2 separate regions of the Homo sapiens genome follow, and region 1 is linked to region 2. The links come from fine-mapping of genetic effects on gene expression. Tissue or cell type: pancreatic islets. Region 2 holds a variant in brackets; the other region holds the start of a gene. All regions are shown on one strand. Distances are from middle to middle.

What was found. PIP is the estimated chance that this variant, and not a neighbour inherited with it, causes the effect.
Region 1: it holds the start of NDFIP1, and the variant in region 2 is fine-mapped to the expression of NDFIP1 in pancreatic islets (PISA, PIP 0.94).

Annotation. Positions count from the first base shown.
Region 1 is chr5:142,104,714-142,112,891 of GRCh38, reverse strand. NDFIP1 (Nedd4 family interacting protein 1) reads right to left here and starts at 4,113. Exons shown (of 8, transcript NM_030571.4): 1 at 3,855-4,113. The coding sequence starts at 3,917. RefSeq lists silencers at 3,684-3,753, 3,824-3,953, 4,014-4,283 and an enhancer at 3,861-4,362.
Region 2 is chr5:142,184,290-142,192,467 of GRCh38, reverse strand. All of the region lies in intron 1 of LOC107986455 (a long non-coding RNA gene), which reads left to right. Among named protein-coding and RNA genes, the nearest start is that of NDFIP1, 80 kb to the right of the region's middle. RefSeq lists enhancers at 4,869-5,398, 6,372-7,267, 7,268-8,164. The variant C/TTCCTTCCC (reference allele first, on the strand shown) is at 3,896.

The DNA of each region.
Region 1 (8,178 bases), 80 kb after region 2:
TGCTTCCATACTGTCTGAGACAGTCTCAGTTTCAAAAGGCAAAAATGAAAAAAAAAATAAAATAATGCCAGGGGAACCTATAAGCCTAGCCTCTTTTTTTTTTTTTTGGACAGAGTCTCACTTCGTCGCCCAGCCTGGAGTGCAGTGGCGCGATCTCGGCTCACTGCAATCTTCACCTCCCGGGTTTCTCCTGCCTCAGCCTCCCGAGTAGCTGGGACTACTACAGGCACGTGCCACCACGCCCAACTAATTTTTTGTATTTTTAGTAGAGATGGGGTTTCACCATGTTAGCCAGGATGGTCTCGATCTCCTGACCTTGTGATCCGCCCACCTCGGTGCCTTTTTTTTTTTTTTTTTTTAAGACAGTCTTGCTCACCCAACCTGGAGTACAGTGGCGCGATCCCAGCCTACTGCAAACTCTGCCTCCTGGGTTCAAGTGATTTTCCTGCCTCAGCCTCCCAAGTAGCTGGAGTTACAGATGTGCACCACCACACCGTGCTTTTTTTTTTAAACAGAGTCTTGCTCTGTCGCCAGGCAGGAGTGCAGTGGCACGATCTCAGTTCACTGAAACATCTGCCTCCCAGGTTCAAGCGATTCTCCTGCCTCAGCCTCCTGAGTAGCTGGGACTACAGGTGCACGCCACCACGCCCAGCTAATTTTTGTATTTTTAATAGAGATGGGGTTTCACATGTTGGCCAGGATGGTCTCAATCTCTTGACCTCGTGATCTTTGTGATCTGCCTGCCTTGGCCTCCCAAAGTGCTGGGATTACAGGCATGAGCCACCTTGCCTGGCCATTTTTTGTTTTGTTTTGTTTTGGTTTTTTTTGAGACAGTCCCACTCTGTCACCCAGGCTGGGGTTCAGTGGCACAATCTTGGCTCACTGCAACTTCTGCCTCCCAGGTTCAAGCAATTCTCCTGCCTCAGCCTCCCAAGTAGCTGGGATTACAGGTGAGTGCCACCACACCTGGCTAATTTTTGTATTTTTAGTAGAGGCAAGGTTTTGCCATGTTGGCCAGGCTGGTCTCGAACTCCTGACCTCAAGTGATCCGCCCACCTCGGCCTCCCAAAGTGCTGTGATTACAGGTGTGAGCCACCACACCTGGTTGAGCCTACCCTTTCTGCATAGTCTGTCACTATGCTAAATTCAAGTTGTCCACATATTACACTACCAATAAAAAGACCATAAAGACAAAACTGTGTTTGCATTTATGAATGAATCATACAGTTTTCCATTACATTTACTTGGTGAGAAAACTAGCTCAATTTGATTAACCAGATCAAATAGAAGTCAGAACAGCCCTGTGTGACAACCAAAGAGTATCATGCTCCTATCAAGTTGCCTGGACAATTCACCATCATTCTATAATTCAAAAGCCTTTTAAAAATGCATATTCGCTGACCAGGCATTTCCATGGCTAGTAATTTATGCTAAGGAAACGGTTGAAGACGTATGTGAAATAAATTTCAATGAAAAAAACTGTAAACATTCTTAGTGACCAAAGATAAGCAATTAGTTAAATTATGATTCAGCCATACAATTACATGCCATGCAGACATTAAAAATATTTTATATAGAAGACATTAATAACATTGTGTGAAGAACATTACAAAATAGAATTATGAACCTATTTCATTATTTATCTAGCATGCCTTTGTAGATACATGTGCATGATACACATGTGCAAATGTATGAATGCACATGTCTGAGAACAAGATACACATGGACACGTGCAAAAGTATGTGCAAGTATGATCGGGGCTCATAAAACTGCACACAAATGTACAAAGATATGTCTGTATACGTATATATGGGTACATAAGAGAATACATATGCATGTGTATATATCTGCTAATGCATACACCTATATCTGGACTGTGAGCCTGTGTTTTAAGTAGGTGAGTGTGTGTATATCCTTATAATCACTACTTAGCAGCCTGTGACCTTGAGGCAAGTTACTGAGCCACTTTGAGTCTTTGACAATGAGAACAAACCCTGGTTCATAAGGGTTTGGTATGAATTAAAAGAAAAAAAAAATGGATGTAAATTACTTAATACTGTGATTGTTGCATAAAAAAATCAATATTAGCTTTCCTGCATTCCTTATCTGTACACACATATACTGATCTATAACTATGTATATTTACATAGCTATAAACCCACAAGAATGCACATTAAAATATTACCTTTGGTTATCTATTTGGTTTTTGTTTAGGGAGGGTTTTGCAGTTTTTTGGGCTTTCATCTTTTACAATTTTTCTAGGAAGATTTTTTTCTCTTTTTTTTATACTTCAATTCTGCATAATTAAAAAATATTAAATGCCACACTAAGGAATACATGATTTTGATACTCCAGCAAATTTTTTATATTCTAGCAGTATGTCAGCATTACCTAATAGCTCAAGAAGATGGCAGTACAAAGAAAAACCACAGCTCTTTTGCTCGTTAGCCTTATCCAAGTCAGGATGAAAAGGATGAAATCAGATGACAGTATACAGTAGGGGTGATTTGCAAACACTGTGGTGACAGTTAAGTGGCATCTGTTATTCCCATTTTATTAAAGCAGTAAGGAACCCGCAGGCTGCCCAAGGTCATAGAAAAAAAGCATGTGCTAGATCCATGTGCTCTGAAGAGATCTAAGGATTAACTGCATTGCCACAATTTGGGCCGTGTTTATAAAACCAAGAAGTGAAATTCTTAACTAGTCATTTTGGGAGTCCAAGCCTGAGTGGGGACGGATTGCAACACATGGCTGATGATAGCAAAACAAACCAGTAACCGGCCGGCCGCACCAGGGTTAATCTACGTTTTCATCGTACTGGCTGGCTTTCCTTACTTCTAAAATATAAAATTGTAGATCGTCTAAGATAGGACATTTTATTTGATAAAAGGAGGATTGACATCTGTATGCACCGAAAGCATCTGAAACATGACAAACACAAGCCGTTATTTGCGGTTCCAATCAACATCAGTTTACCACCTGGCTCAATTCCCACCATTACTGTATGTTAGATTAACACTTCCAAAAACCCTGCAGAAGGTCTCTAAATTTCCTGGGGGAACTTAGCTACAGACGCGGAGTGAAACAAGCAGCTCTTTTCCCTGGGGCCTCAATGTATTAAATCAAACCCGAGAAAATGATCCAATCATTTCCTATACATTTCCTCCCCAGCTATGCCATCAAATCTCTTAAAACGTCACTTCCAAGCATTTAAAATACACCCGGCACACGCCCTGCAGACTTCATCGTAGCTCTCCCTTTTGGGGCATCACCACAGCCAAACATCGCCTCTTCCAAATCTACTGCAAACTGCGGGCTTGTCTCTTGCTTCATTTTTTACTTTTGTCTTAAAACGGAGGCGAGGGGGATGGGTTTCGACAAACTAGGCTCTGAAACCCTGAGCAATAGCATCTTGCTGTGGGGAGCTATCGGCAGCAGCAGAGATTTTAATCTTTTCTCTCCACCCAGTTTCCGTTTCATGCTTTTTTCTTTCTTTCTTTTCCAATGACATCAAACCAAAGGTGGAAAAATGAAAAACGAATGCCTCAGATCGATGCCGCCTGTGGGTCGCGGGTTCTGACTCAGGGACCCGCCCGCCCTGGGAAATGCGGGAAACGAGGCCGGGAGGAGGACTTTCCACCGCCGGAGTCCCACCTGGGGTCGCAGACGGGCAGGCCGGGCCCGTGGCAGCCTCGAATCCGAGCCCGGGGCCCGACCCGCCCCTCCAGGCCCAGCGCGGCCTGCCAAGCCCCGGCGTCGAGTTGGCCGCGGGCCGGCCAGAGAGGCCTGAGGCGGCCAGCGGGCAGGGCAGAGCCAGGGACCGGAGTTCGGGGCTGGAGTCGGGCGCCGCTTACCTGCTGGTACCGGCTGCCGCAGGCCGGCTCGACCGCCGCCAGCGCCGCCAACGCCAACGCCATGGCGCAGCCGGCAGCAGGGAAGCAGAGCGAGCGAGCGAGCTAGCTGAAGGGGCGCGGCCGCTGCGGCTTGGGAGCGCTGGGAGGCCGAGGGGGACGCGCCTTGGGTGGGTCTCGATGGCCGCCGCCGCTCCCGGGCGAGACGCTCTTCTCAGGCTGTAAGCACCGCCGCCGCCGCCGAGGCTCCGACGCGGCCCCTGGGGAAGAGGCGGGGACTACGACGACGGCGCTGCGCCGCCGCCCCACCCCCGACTCGCGCCGCCCTGCCCGGCCCGGCCCGGCCTAGCCTAGTCCTGCGCCGCCGCCCCGAGGTGCACCGGCCCTGGTGTAGTTGCTCCGACGACCTGAGCCTCCGAGGCTCAAGTGTTGTATTCGATTCCACTAAAAACGAATTACTAACAGGCCAGCCCAAAGCAAGGGCGATGCTGCTGATGAGCACCTCGTGCCAAGCACTGAGCTTCACCTACGTGCCCTCATCCAGCCTTCAGCACAACCGCCCTGACGCAGGGACCACAACCCCATTCTCGAGGTCGTTGGCAACCAGAGAGGTTGACAATCTTCACAGCAGCGACCTGATCCCTCGTGTCTGGCAGCAGAATCGTGGTTCTTATTCACTCCCTTCTTTTATCTGCCGTACTCATAAACCAGGGGTCAGCCAGCGACAGGGAGGGGGCCAAATCCGGTCTGCCACCATGACTGTGAAAAGTACATGAAATTCAAGTTTCAGTGTCCATAAATAAAGTTTTATTGGAACACAGCAGCACCCATTTGTTTGGTATGGCCTGCAAACCCTATAATACTTGCTATCTGACATTTTACAGAAAAAGTTTGCTAACCCTAAATCCTTGAGAACTGCTTGGATCTCAAATCCTACTTAGGGTGGATGATTATAATAGCATCCTCATGTTTATGCCATCCTTTAGTATTTTAACAGCCTCATCTGCGGAATCGGAAACAATATTTTCCAAAAAAGCTCCCTGACTCGGTGACATGAAGTCAAAACTTGAAGGGTTTGGCCATGCTAAAGGCTTTCCCGACCACAGGAACAGGTGCAAAGGGCGGTCCAGAGAGAGATTGTCTTGTGGAAGAACAGAAAGGAGGCTGGCATAGCTGCCATATAGGAGATACAATTATCAGTGTTTCACAGATGAGGAAGTTATGCCCAAAGAAATTAAATATCTCACCCAATGACACAGAGCTACTAAGGGGTGAAGCTGGAATACAACTCCATTAAGCCAGCTTTCTTACCCAGTATTGCACAACTAAATTATAAGCTTTGTGAAGACAAGAGTATTTGTCTTTTAAATCTTATTACCTCCCAATGCCATGTAGCACAGTATAGCTATATAGCAGGCTTGCAAGGTCTGTTTCTTTCACACCCAGCCATCTGCAATTGCTTCTACCCACATGTCCTACAGAGAAAAACAAAATCTTCCATCTCTGAAGCTTGTTGCAATTCCCATTTCTTCTTCATTGCCTTTCCAAGTTGGCAGTGTAGAGGTTATATTAATATGATTATTGTCTTAGCTTCTAATTTTGAAGTTTAGTTAATTATGTATTTTAAAAGAGAACTGTGTTTAGAACACACCCTGAGGTTTCTGTATATATGAGAAAATTGTAATCAATAAAAACTCTAGATGTTTACCATCTTCACTTTGAGTTCTCTCTCAGCATCCAAACTCCTCTATATCTGTCGCTATTTCCAAGTATTAGTCTCACATATTAACATGCTGGGAGAGCGAACAAATGTAGCAACATTCCAAGCTCTCAAGTCTATTTAGAGCCTCCTTACTCTGTCCCTCAGTTGTTGTTTATAATCCAGAAAAACAACATTTAAATGTAATCAGGTACAGTGAATCAAACATAATGTCCTGCCATGTAGTCTTGTATAAAGGGTGCAAAAATCTAATTTGAAATTTTTTAAAATGTCAGCAGTGGAAAGTAGAAATCCAGACTTCTTTGTCCAGATTGTCTACATTTACGTGTAAGAAAGAATAAAAAAGAATGTCCACTGGGCACAGTGGCTCACATCTGTAATCTCAGCACTTTGAGAGCCTGAGACTCGAGGATCACGTGAGCCCAGGAGCCAGGAGTTCGAGACCAACCTGGGCAACATAGTGAGACACAATCTCTGAAAAAAAAAAAGAAAAAGAAAAAAGAATTTGTCGGCCTACCACATAAGGCTATTGGAGCAACAACTGCAATCTTTATGCATGTCTGCAGTGCTGTGGCTTTTGTGGAAAAGATGTTGCTACCCTTCTATTTCTTTCCTAAATTACTTTCTCCCTCAATATCTATATACTCCCTGCATGTGGACACAAATATTTATCATAATATAAATAACAGGCTTTATCATAGAAATATTTTGCATTGAAAGTAAAAGAAAATTGATCTCCAACTTCTAATCTCCTTTTCCTATGTCCTCAACCAAAATGTTTTGTAGTCACGGTAAAGATTTTGGTCTTTTTTTTCTTGAGTTCCCCAAAGCCTCTAATAAGTAAATTGAGATTATTTGCCTTGATTTGATGGGTGGATAAATTGGAGAATTGAGAAATTGAGTCACTGCTATATTAGGCCTCCAGCTGGCAGGCAAATTGTACAACGAAGGGGAAAACTGAATTTCTGGCTCACAGATCCATGCCTGGTGCAAGCCAAGCAGACAGAGAAGATAATCCAAAGCCATAAAAATTGTGCTCTTTGGCTTCATCTCGAGATGTTGTCAAGAGAGTTTCCACAGAGAAAGTTATTAATTTCAGATTGCTGCACTTAGAAACTTATTTCCCCACAGAATAACAGTAATACTTTCCATGTGCAGTACTGCATATGTGAATTGCTGACTCTGAATCATCCCTCCTGAGAGAGAAAAGAAACATGGACAAGTATAAGCATAACTCATGTCCGTATCCCTTTCCCCCTGCAATATAGATACAAATCTCTAGGATAAATGTGACCTTCTGTCTTTCATATCCACATGAGGCTTGACCTAGGTAGTGCAGAGCTCAGTAAGTAACCAAGAAGGGTTTGTTAAATGTGTTAAATTTAGACAAAAGCCTCATTAGTCTAATATCTCATTTGAGGCCTTGAACTTCTCCAGCTAGTCTTCACAGGGCTCCAATTAAACCATGAAGTTTTATTTCTATGACTTACTACTTCTTTTAATTCTCACTACATTACCACAAGGTTCATTAAGAGCAAAAGGTAATATCTTCATATTACAAATAAAGAAATTATCCACTGATAATTACTACTGTTATGGAGCACTTCCAGAATCTTGGACCTGATGGTACATCATCTGCTTAATCTTCATAACAAACCCATTCTGCAGATTCTTGAAGAGACTCAGGAAATTTACATAACCTACTCAGCTTTGTGAGCGGTGGAGTCGAAACGCAAACTGGGATTTGTCTGGCTCCAAAATGTATGCACTGCTTTGGGTGTGGAGAGAAATACGGGACATAAATAGACAGGAGATAGAAAGTTCTAACCTTTGGAGTCTTCATGATGAAATAGAGATGATAGTAAACACTTATTTGAGACATTTTTAAAATATAAAACTTACAAGTTATTTACAACTGTGTTGAGCTATATTAACTAATGCTGAGAGATAGTGAAGAGAATTATGTGGCCAGCTGGGATAATCAGGTAAGGATTGGGAAGAAAGGGTTTTGAACGAGAAAAGGGCTTTGTTGGCCAGGTGTGGTGGCTCACGCCTGTAATCCCAGCACTTTGGGAGGCCGAGGCGGGAGGATCACCTGAGGTTGGGAGTTGGAGACCAGCCTGACCATCATGGAGAAACCCCATCTCTACTAAAAATACAAAAAACTTAGCCGGGCGTGGTGGTACATGCCTGTAATCCCAGCTACTTGGGAGGCTAAGGCAGGAGAATCACTTGAACCTGAGAGGCGGAGGTTGCAGTGAGCCGAGATCGCGCCATTGCACTCCAGCCTGGGCAACAAGAGTGAAACTTCATCTAAAAAAAAAAAACAGAAAGAAATAAAAGGGCTTTGCTGTCATGGGAAGAGAGAAAGTTGTCAACCTGAAATAACAACAGAGAGATTCTCCAAAGACAGTGAGTTTATTTGTGAATCCTCAAGATTGCAATCTGGGATATGTATGCACCTCATGAAGGGCCATGGATGTACCCAGAGAGGGAAAGGAAGGCAAAGGTTTTAAAGGCAAAATGAGCAAGGTTACATAAGTTGTTTTGAAACTATTAACCTTGGCTACAAGGATCAATAACAAGGGTGGTATCACTCCAAGGCTG
Region 2 (8,178 bases):
GGATTAACAGGAAGCGAATGACCCCATTGGGCCTGTTAGCACATCCCAGGGTTGCTCTCCCAGCCTGACAAAAAAGAAGTACGTTTCGCTTCCCCAAACTATGTAGGCTTGTGGTTGAAGACAATAAATACCCTTACCCTAGACCCCCATGGATAATTTGCAATAATCAACTTTACAAATAATAATCCTGTAAATTACATTTTGAAAGAAAGGGCTCAATCCATCAGCTCCTACACTCCTCCCTTTGTTGCCAGTTCACTGCTCAGACACCTCCCCTTAAGGGCGAGAGGGACAAAGAAGGGTTAGAATCCAGCTTTTTCATCACCTCCTCCATGAAGGCTGAGCTCTAAGACCACAACCCGTGACTGAAGCGAGGGTTTTGGATCATTTGTAATTGTTCTTGGACGACCCACGATTTTTTGTTTGCTAACACTAGTCCTGGGAGGAAATGAATTAGCTTTAACTGAGGACAGGTAGGAGGCCCAAATTCCTTCCACTGTAGATTTTACATTCTAAATGAATGACTGTGTGACAGGCTCTGGGGAGGAACCAGGGACAGTCACTTTTGTCTCTGACATGCCCAGTATCCTTTCCTCTGCCTTCAGGAACAGCTCCCAGGGTTGGTTTGGGATCCACCCTGCCACCCTCAAGGTGAGGCTCCAAAACACAGCCATGGGGAGGAACACACGTCCTAGCCTAAGCCAATCACTGTTCCAGATTCCCTGGGCCACGGGGCTTAGATCAGGAAAGGAAAAATGGCCCCAGGGGAGCCAATGGGCCACAGAGGCCTTTCCTGGGAATGCAGAGCCAGAGACGGGCACTCTCTCTGGCTAGACTTCGATCCTGAGGCTGAGGGGCTGCTGGTGCCACCCCATCTTGTCTTCACAAGGAGTCTACGGCGAGAAGAGAGGGAAGAGAGAGTCCAGGGTTGATGTGTGTCCTCTTTGGGCCCTGAATCCCTTCCATTCTCATCCCCACCCCCAGGCATCCTTGTATATGATCCAATAAATTGCTTCTTTTTTCTTTTTTTCTTTTCTCTTTTGTTTTTTTTTGAGACAGAGTCTCACACTGTTGCCCAGGCTGGAGTGCAGTGGTGCAGTCTCGGCCTACTGCAACCTCTGCCTCCCGGGATCAATCCATTCTCCTGCCTCAGCCTCCCGAGTAGCTGGGATTACAGGCGCCCACCACCATGTCTGGCTAATTTTTTCTATTTTTAGTAGAGACAGGGTTTTCACTATGTTGGCAAGGCAGGTCTCGAACTCCTGACCTTGTGATCCACCCACCTCAGCCTCCCAAAGTGCTGGGATTACAGGCGTGAGCCACTGCGCCCAGCCAAACTGCTTCGTTATTAAGCCAGAGTGGGCATGGGCTTTTCTGGGTCTTATAACCAAAATGGTCCTGTGTGACATACTAGTGTGCAAACTCTCGGAGACTGAAGCTTGAATCAAAAGCTGGAAAAGCAGTGGGACCCACTTTGACCAGTGAGCATCTTTGAATTAAACCCTGGACTATTCCATCAAAGTTACCATGGCCTATATTCTGTTACCTTTCTTCTCTTGGGAACGTGGGAATAGCAGAGGGAAAAAGCCTGAAATGTACGTTAATAGTAGGCCATTTAACGGAGGTTTACCCGCCATCTTACTACTGGTAGCCCACTCCCTCCCACTAAAAGGGCATTTTTTGCCCAGCCCCAGGGCTTAGAGTTCAGAGCTGCCTCACAATTTCACTGAAGAGCAGGACATTCTCTTACTGGGAATCACAGAGTCCTCTGAAAGCACAGGCCCTTATAAGTAAGGAATGAGCCTGAAGATAACACAGGGTTAATAATCTGCTTGTCAACACTTTGAAACTCTCTCTCAAAGTCAGTTCGCAGGCAGCAGAGCTAGCTGATGAAACCCTGAATCAGAGTCCTCATATGGGATATTTCCTCCCCTCTGAGCTCCAAACTACCATTCTGTTTCTTTGATGGTATAGGAAATTCATGGACTTATTCCCAAATTGAACTCTCAGAACATACTGGCCAACATAGCACGATCCCATCTCTTAAAATTGTGTGTGTGTGTGTGTGTGTGTGTGTGTGTGTGTGGAGGGGGTGCACACCTGTGGTCTCAGTTACTCAGGAAGCTAAAGCAGAAAGATCACTTGAGTCCAGGAGTTCGAGGCTACAATGAGCTATGATGGTGCCACTGCACTCCAGCCTGGGTGACAGAACGAGACCCTGTCTCAAAAAAATTTTTTTAAAGTGAAACACATAAAAAGATGCTCAGCACCTCTAAAACTAAAAACGAGTTATAATTTTACATCCACGAGATGGACTATGATGAAAACAATGGATAACATCCAACCCTGGTGAGGGTATGGAGAAATAAGTGCTCTTGTATCATGTTGAGGAGAGTGCGTATTATTAGTACACGGCCCCCTGCAGGTCTTCCTCTCCCCGCACATGCACACATGCTGCACCCCACATCAAGAGGCAGAGCTTGGCTCCCACCCCCTTTGAATCTGGGCTTGCCTTGTGACTGACTTTGATCAATAGAGTATGGCAGCAGTGACATTCTGGAACCCGGACCCATGCTGCGAGAAACTCAAGCCACATGGAGAGACCAGTAAGAGGGAAGCCAAAGGCGCTCCTGGGGATAGCCCCAGCCCAGCACCAGCCAGCACCAACTACCAGCCCCACCAGTGAGAACGTTCGGACCCTCCCTGTCCAGCACCACAGGAGGCAGAGCCACCACTTAGTCCACCTACAGAAACATGGGGAATAATGAATTATTGTTTTAAGCCATTTAATTTCGAGGGATTTGTTACTTAGGAATAGATAACAGAAACAATATTCATTGTCATCTTGTATGAAATAGAGAAAAAATTGGAAGCAAAAAGCCATCAGTAGGAGAATGGTTGCATAAATTATAGTCCAGCCATACCAGAAATGCTGCACAGCCATTAAGAAGATTGCTGTGAATCTGAATGAAGTGACAGAGGAAGGCCCCCAAGATAGGTTAATGAAAAAAACAATTTTTTGTTTGTTTTTTGAGACGGAGTCTCGCTCTGTCACCAGGCTGGAGCGCAGTGGCGCAATCTCGCTCACTGCAACCTCTGCCTCCCGGGTTCAAGCGATTCTCCCGCCTCAGCCTCTAGTAGCTGGGACTACAGGCACACGCCACCACACCTAGCTAATTTTTGTATTTTTTAGTATCGATGGGGTTTCACCATGTTGGCCAGGATGGTCTCAATCTCTTGATCTCATGATCTGCCCTCCTTGGCTCCCAAAGTGCTTTACAGGTGTGAGCCACCGCACCCGGCCAAAAAAAGCAATTTTTAAAACCATATGCCTAGTATGATTTTGCTATGTAAAAAATATGTGATTTGGGTAAACACATTTAAAACTATCAAAAAGATATACACCAAACCATCAACAGTATTTACTTATTGGGGGAAAAAATGGATTTGGGGCAAAAAAGCGTATACAAACTTTCACTTTTGATTTCTATACAGTTTAATTTCTTCTGCTGCTTCTTCCTCCTCCTCCTCTTCTTCTTCCTCTTCCTCCTCCTTCTTCTTCTCCTTCCTTCCTTCCTTTTTTTTGACGGAGTCTTGCTCTGTTGCCCAGGCTGGAGTGTAGTGGTGCAGTCTCGGCTCACTGCAACCTCTGCCTCCCGGATTCAAGTGATTCTCCTGCCTCAGCCTCCCGAGTAGCTGGAACTATAGGCATCCGCCACCAAGCCCAGCTAATTTTTGTATTTTTAGTAGAGACAAGGTTTCACCATGTTGGCCAGGCTGGTCTCGAACTCCTGACCTTGTGATCCGCTCACCTCGGCCTCCCAAAGTGCTGGGATTACAGGCTTGAGCCACTGTGGCCGGCCTTCTTTCCTTCCTTTCTTCCTTCCTTCCTTCC[C/TTCCTTCCC]TTCCTTCCCTTCCCTTCTCTTTCCTTCCTTCCTTCCTTCCTTCCCTCCTTTCCTTCTTCTTCTCCTTCTTCTTCTTCTTCCAATGAGCATGTACTCATGTTTTATAGTTTTATAATCTAATAAAAGAGGACAGATTTCCAAGCTTTTTTAACCCAGTCCCCTGGCTTCCTGAGAAGTTAGGTTGAGTCCGGTCTCATGTTAGCTGTCCTTTCACTGAGCACCTATGATAAAACCAGGCACCCCACATACTATTTCCAGTTCTCACAACAACTAGGCATTATTTTTCCAGTTTTAGAAATGCGCCCATGTGGGTTTAGAATGGATAGGGAATGTTCCAAGTGTCACCCAACTGAGTGGCGGAACCAGTGTTTTAATCCAGGTGGACCCCACTTCAAAGCCCTGGTGCCCTTTCAGGTAAGACCTGGGCCGGCCTGAAGGAGCTGATGGTCTGGCCGGGGACAAGAACTCACACATGGACAGAAACTACTGGATGCAATGACTGCACACAGGGACCTGGGTTCAAATCCCAGCTTCACTGCTGACCAGGTATGAAGCTGTGGACTAGTGACAGCCTCCTGTGTCTTAGCCATTGAGCAAGCATCTACTAAGTACCTCCCAGGTGACAGGTACTGCTCATGCCAGGTCCCCACCACCTTGGGAGGGAAATCCCTGCCCCATGGAGCTCATGATATAATACTTGAGCCAGATATGAAACAAGTAACCAGATAAACACATGATGTAACCACAGAGGATAATAAAAGCTAAGAAAAAGAAATACTGCCAGATGCAGTGGCCAGACATGTAGTCCCAGCTACTCAGGAGACTGAGGTGGGAGGTTCACCTGAGCTCTGGAGGTTGAGGTTGCAGTGAGCTGTGATCATGCCGCTGCACTCCAGCCTGGGTAAGAGAGCAAGACCCTGTCAAAAAGAAAGGAAGGAAGAGAGGGAGGGAGGAAGAAAGGGAGGAAGGAAGGGAGGGAGGGAGGAAAAGGAAAGAGAACAAAACATAAAAATGCCTCAATTTTCCTGTCTGTAAAATGGGATGCTGATGATGCCAATTTCACAGGACTCTCGTGCTGAGTCAATAAAATATTTTCTGTCAGATGCTTAGTGCCAAGCTGGGTGCACAATGAGTAAATGGGAGTGACGGTGCTGATATGCTAAGCTGTGTTTGTACAAGCTGTGATAAAGAATTTTTAAAAGGTGCATGACAAATATTTGCTAAATGAATGCAACAAAGAGCCATCACCTGGGCTAGAGCAGTCAGGGAGGACTTCCCAGAGGAGGCACCAGAGGAGCCTCTGCTCAAAGCTGGACCACACTCTGTAGGGCAAAGGCCTCCACCCTGCGCAAGAGGTTCTGGAGTGTCCAAACAGAAGACAGAGGCAAGGCAAACAGGCCAAGCACCCTGCTAATGTGGTTAGTTTGGGCCTTATCTCTGAAAGGAGCTGGGTCTCAGACAGCTTGTCGGGGCTGACCACAGGGCCTGCCGAGAAACCAGATTCAGAACATGCGCTTGCTGCTGCCACCACCGGGAGGGCGGTGCGGGTGGGGGTGCAGGAAGGCCTGGGGGAGCGCCGGGTTATTTGTTATGGGGTGAAGAGGAAGCTGTAAGTGGTCCTCTGTCCTCCATTAACAGCAGGATGGAGTCAGGCTGGAGCCACCAGCTTTGGAGTCAGCCTTGTTTTTTAAACACACATGGCTGGCCCAGGCCTTTTAACCCCCAAACACCCCAGGGTTCCTGCAGGAAAAAAACAGTAGCCTTTGGTCTAGAAACTCTGCAGCTGGGGTGTAGCTTAGGGCATTTCTTTTTAGCTCAGAAACAAACAGAAGATAAGAATATTGTGATAAAAGGAACTGTACTTTTATAATGGATTATTCAAAGTCAGGGAGTCTGGGATGGTTATAATTCTTTATACTTCAGACTCTTTAATGTACATCCACAAAGCTAAGAGCAAATAATAAAAATGGATTATCCTTGTCTGCAAAGAAACACAAACTATTTATTTCTACCCAGTCCTCCCCCACCCACTCTCATCACCAAAAGTTGATGCAAAGAAATATAAACGATTTACTGCAAAGAAATACAAAGGATTTATCTCTCTCAATCCTCCCCCACCCACTCTCATCACCTGAAAGTATGAGACCTAGAACCATTTACACAAGTCTATGAGTACTTCACCCCCTCTGAACCTCCCCCAACCCTGTTCATTGGGACCCATTCTATAGCACTCTTCGGTGGGGTGAAGGGGTGATTGTACCAGTGATTCTTAACTTTTTGGAGAAGTCCCAGACAATTTGGGAAGCTCATGAAGGCCATGGACCCTCTCCCTGGAAAGATGCACACCACACAGAATTGTGCACTGTATTTCAGCAGTTCCAAGACTTCTCAGTCTTGGAACAGTACTTCCCAGATACAGTACTTCCCAGGTCAGACCGATTGGTAAATTTCTTCCAGCTCTTATTCTACAACTGATTTGCTCCCATTCAATACATGAGATAATCCTTAGCAATCAGTCTGATGATAAAAAAAATCTCAGTGGCTCAGAAACACCCAGGAAGTGTTTCTAAGGCTCAATAGTTAGTAGGGTAAGAACGGTTACCACTGTGGGAGGACTAGGGCATTTGCAGCAGGCACCTGGATAGCAGCTCTGAATCCCCACTTAGACTGGTGACATGAGGATAGGGTCCCTAGGACCCTTACGGCCAACAGGATTTCCACTGCCTTATACCCACAGATAGGCTGAGAAGGTGAAGCTTCTCCAACCCCCCAGTGCCCATCATGTTCTCATGAGGTCTCACTCTGAGGCTATGCTCAGGCCCTATACTCCACAACAGGGGTCTGCAAGACCATGCTGCTGAGCAGGGGGCAGGCTGGGTCTGAGAGTCCAGTCCAGATGGGTTTGGGCCCCAGACTTTGGAGAAAAGGCAGAAGTGAACACAGACTAACCATGTCCTCATCCAGCCTGGATGAAGGATGACCCAAAGGCTGGAGCTACGGTTCACCCCAATCCAAACAACTACTGTGGAGGGTGTGGGAGGCTGTGTTTTCCAGAGCTTGCAGTTCTTTATCTACCAAATCGGGCTTCTGTACCACCTCCCCTCTCCCTGACACACAAGAATCATCCCAGCACTTCTGGAAAAGTTTCCAAGGCAAAACTGCTGCCCTGAAGGCAGTCCCTTCAGGAACCAGGGTGATCAGGACAAAGCAATTTCAGGAGGCGGGAAGATCATAATCCACAAGACTTTGGTCAGGCTCAGTGGGAGCAAGCCAGCCCCAAAATGCGGTAATGATTACTAACAGACGATGCTCCCAACCTTACACGTGTTCCACATCCACAAACTGGAAAAAATTGTCAAATTAAATATGAAACAGGAAGTAGAGATAAAGACCCATGCACACACTGCGCACAAACTCACATACACTCTTCTCGTTAGCATGGGATGAAAGCCAGTGGTGACGATTTTTAATTAGAAAGGAGGACTCATAGCTGCCTCCCAAGGCCAAGGCACTCGGCTCTGAACACCAGGCCAGAGTTAACCCTTGCAGCTCCAGGGCGGTGCCTCATTATAAATGGCCCCACTCTACAAAAATTAGCTGGGCATGGTGGTGGGTGCCTGCAGTCCCAGCTACTTGGGAGGCTGCGGCAGGAGAATTGCTTGAACCCAGGAGGCAGAGGTTGCAGTGAGCCAAGGTTGTGCCACTGCACTCCAGTCTGGGCAACAGGGCAAGACTCTGTCTCAAAAAAATAAAAAAAAGATAAATGGCCCCTGCCGGGAGTGGTGGCTCACGCCTGTAATCCCAGCACTTTGGAAGGCCGAGGCGAATGGATCACCTGAGGCCAGGAGTTTGAGACCAGCCTGGCCAACATGGTGAAACCCCATCTCTACTAAAAATACAAAATCAGCGGGGCGTGGCGACGCATGCCTGTAATCCCAGCTACTCGGGAGGCTGAGGCAGGAGAATCACTTGAACCCGGGAGGTGGAGGTTGAAGTGACCTGAGATTGCGCCATTGCCCTCCAGCCTGGGCAGCAAGAGCGAAACTCTGCCTCAAAAAAAAAAAAAAAAGAAAAAAAGATAAACGGCCCCACTGCTAGAGGAAGCTCATCAAAGTTTTCTAACCTTGCTTGGTTAATTAAAGAATCATTAAGAAATGGGTGGAGGGGATAGGAGGAAGAAAGGAAGAGAAGAGAAGAGAAAAAATCAAGGGGAGAAGAGACTCTCGTGGCAGCATCAACCCCTCCACCAGGAGAGTGCTGGTGTGGAGGCCATGCCCTCTGA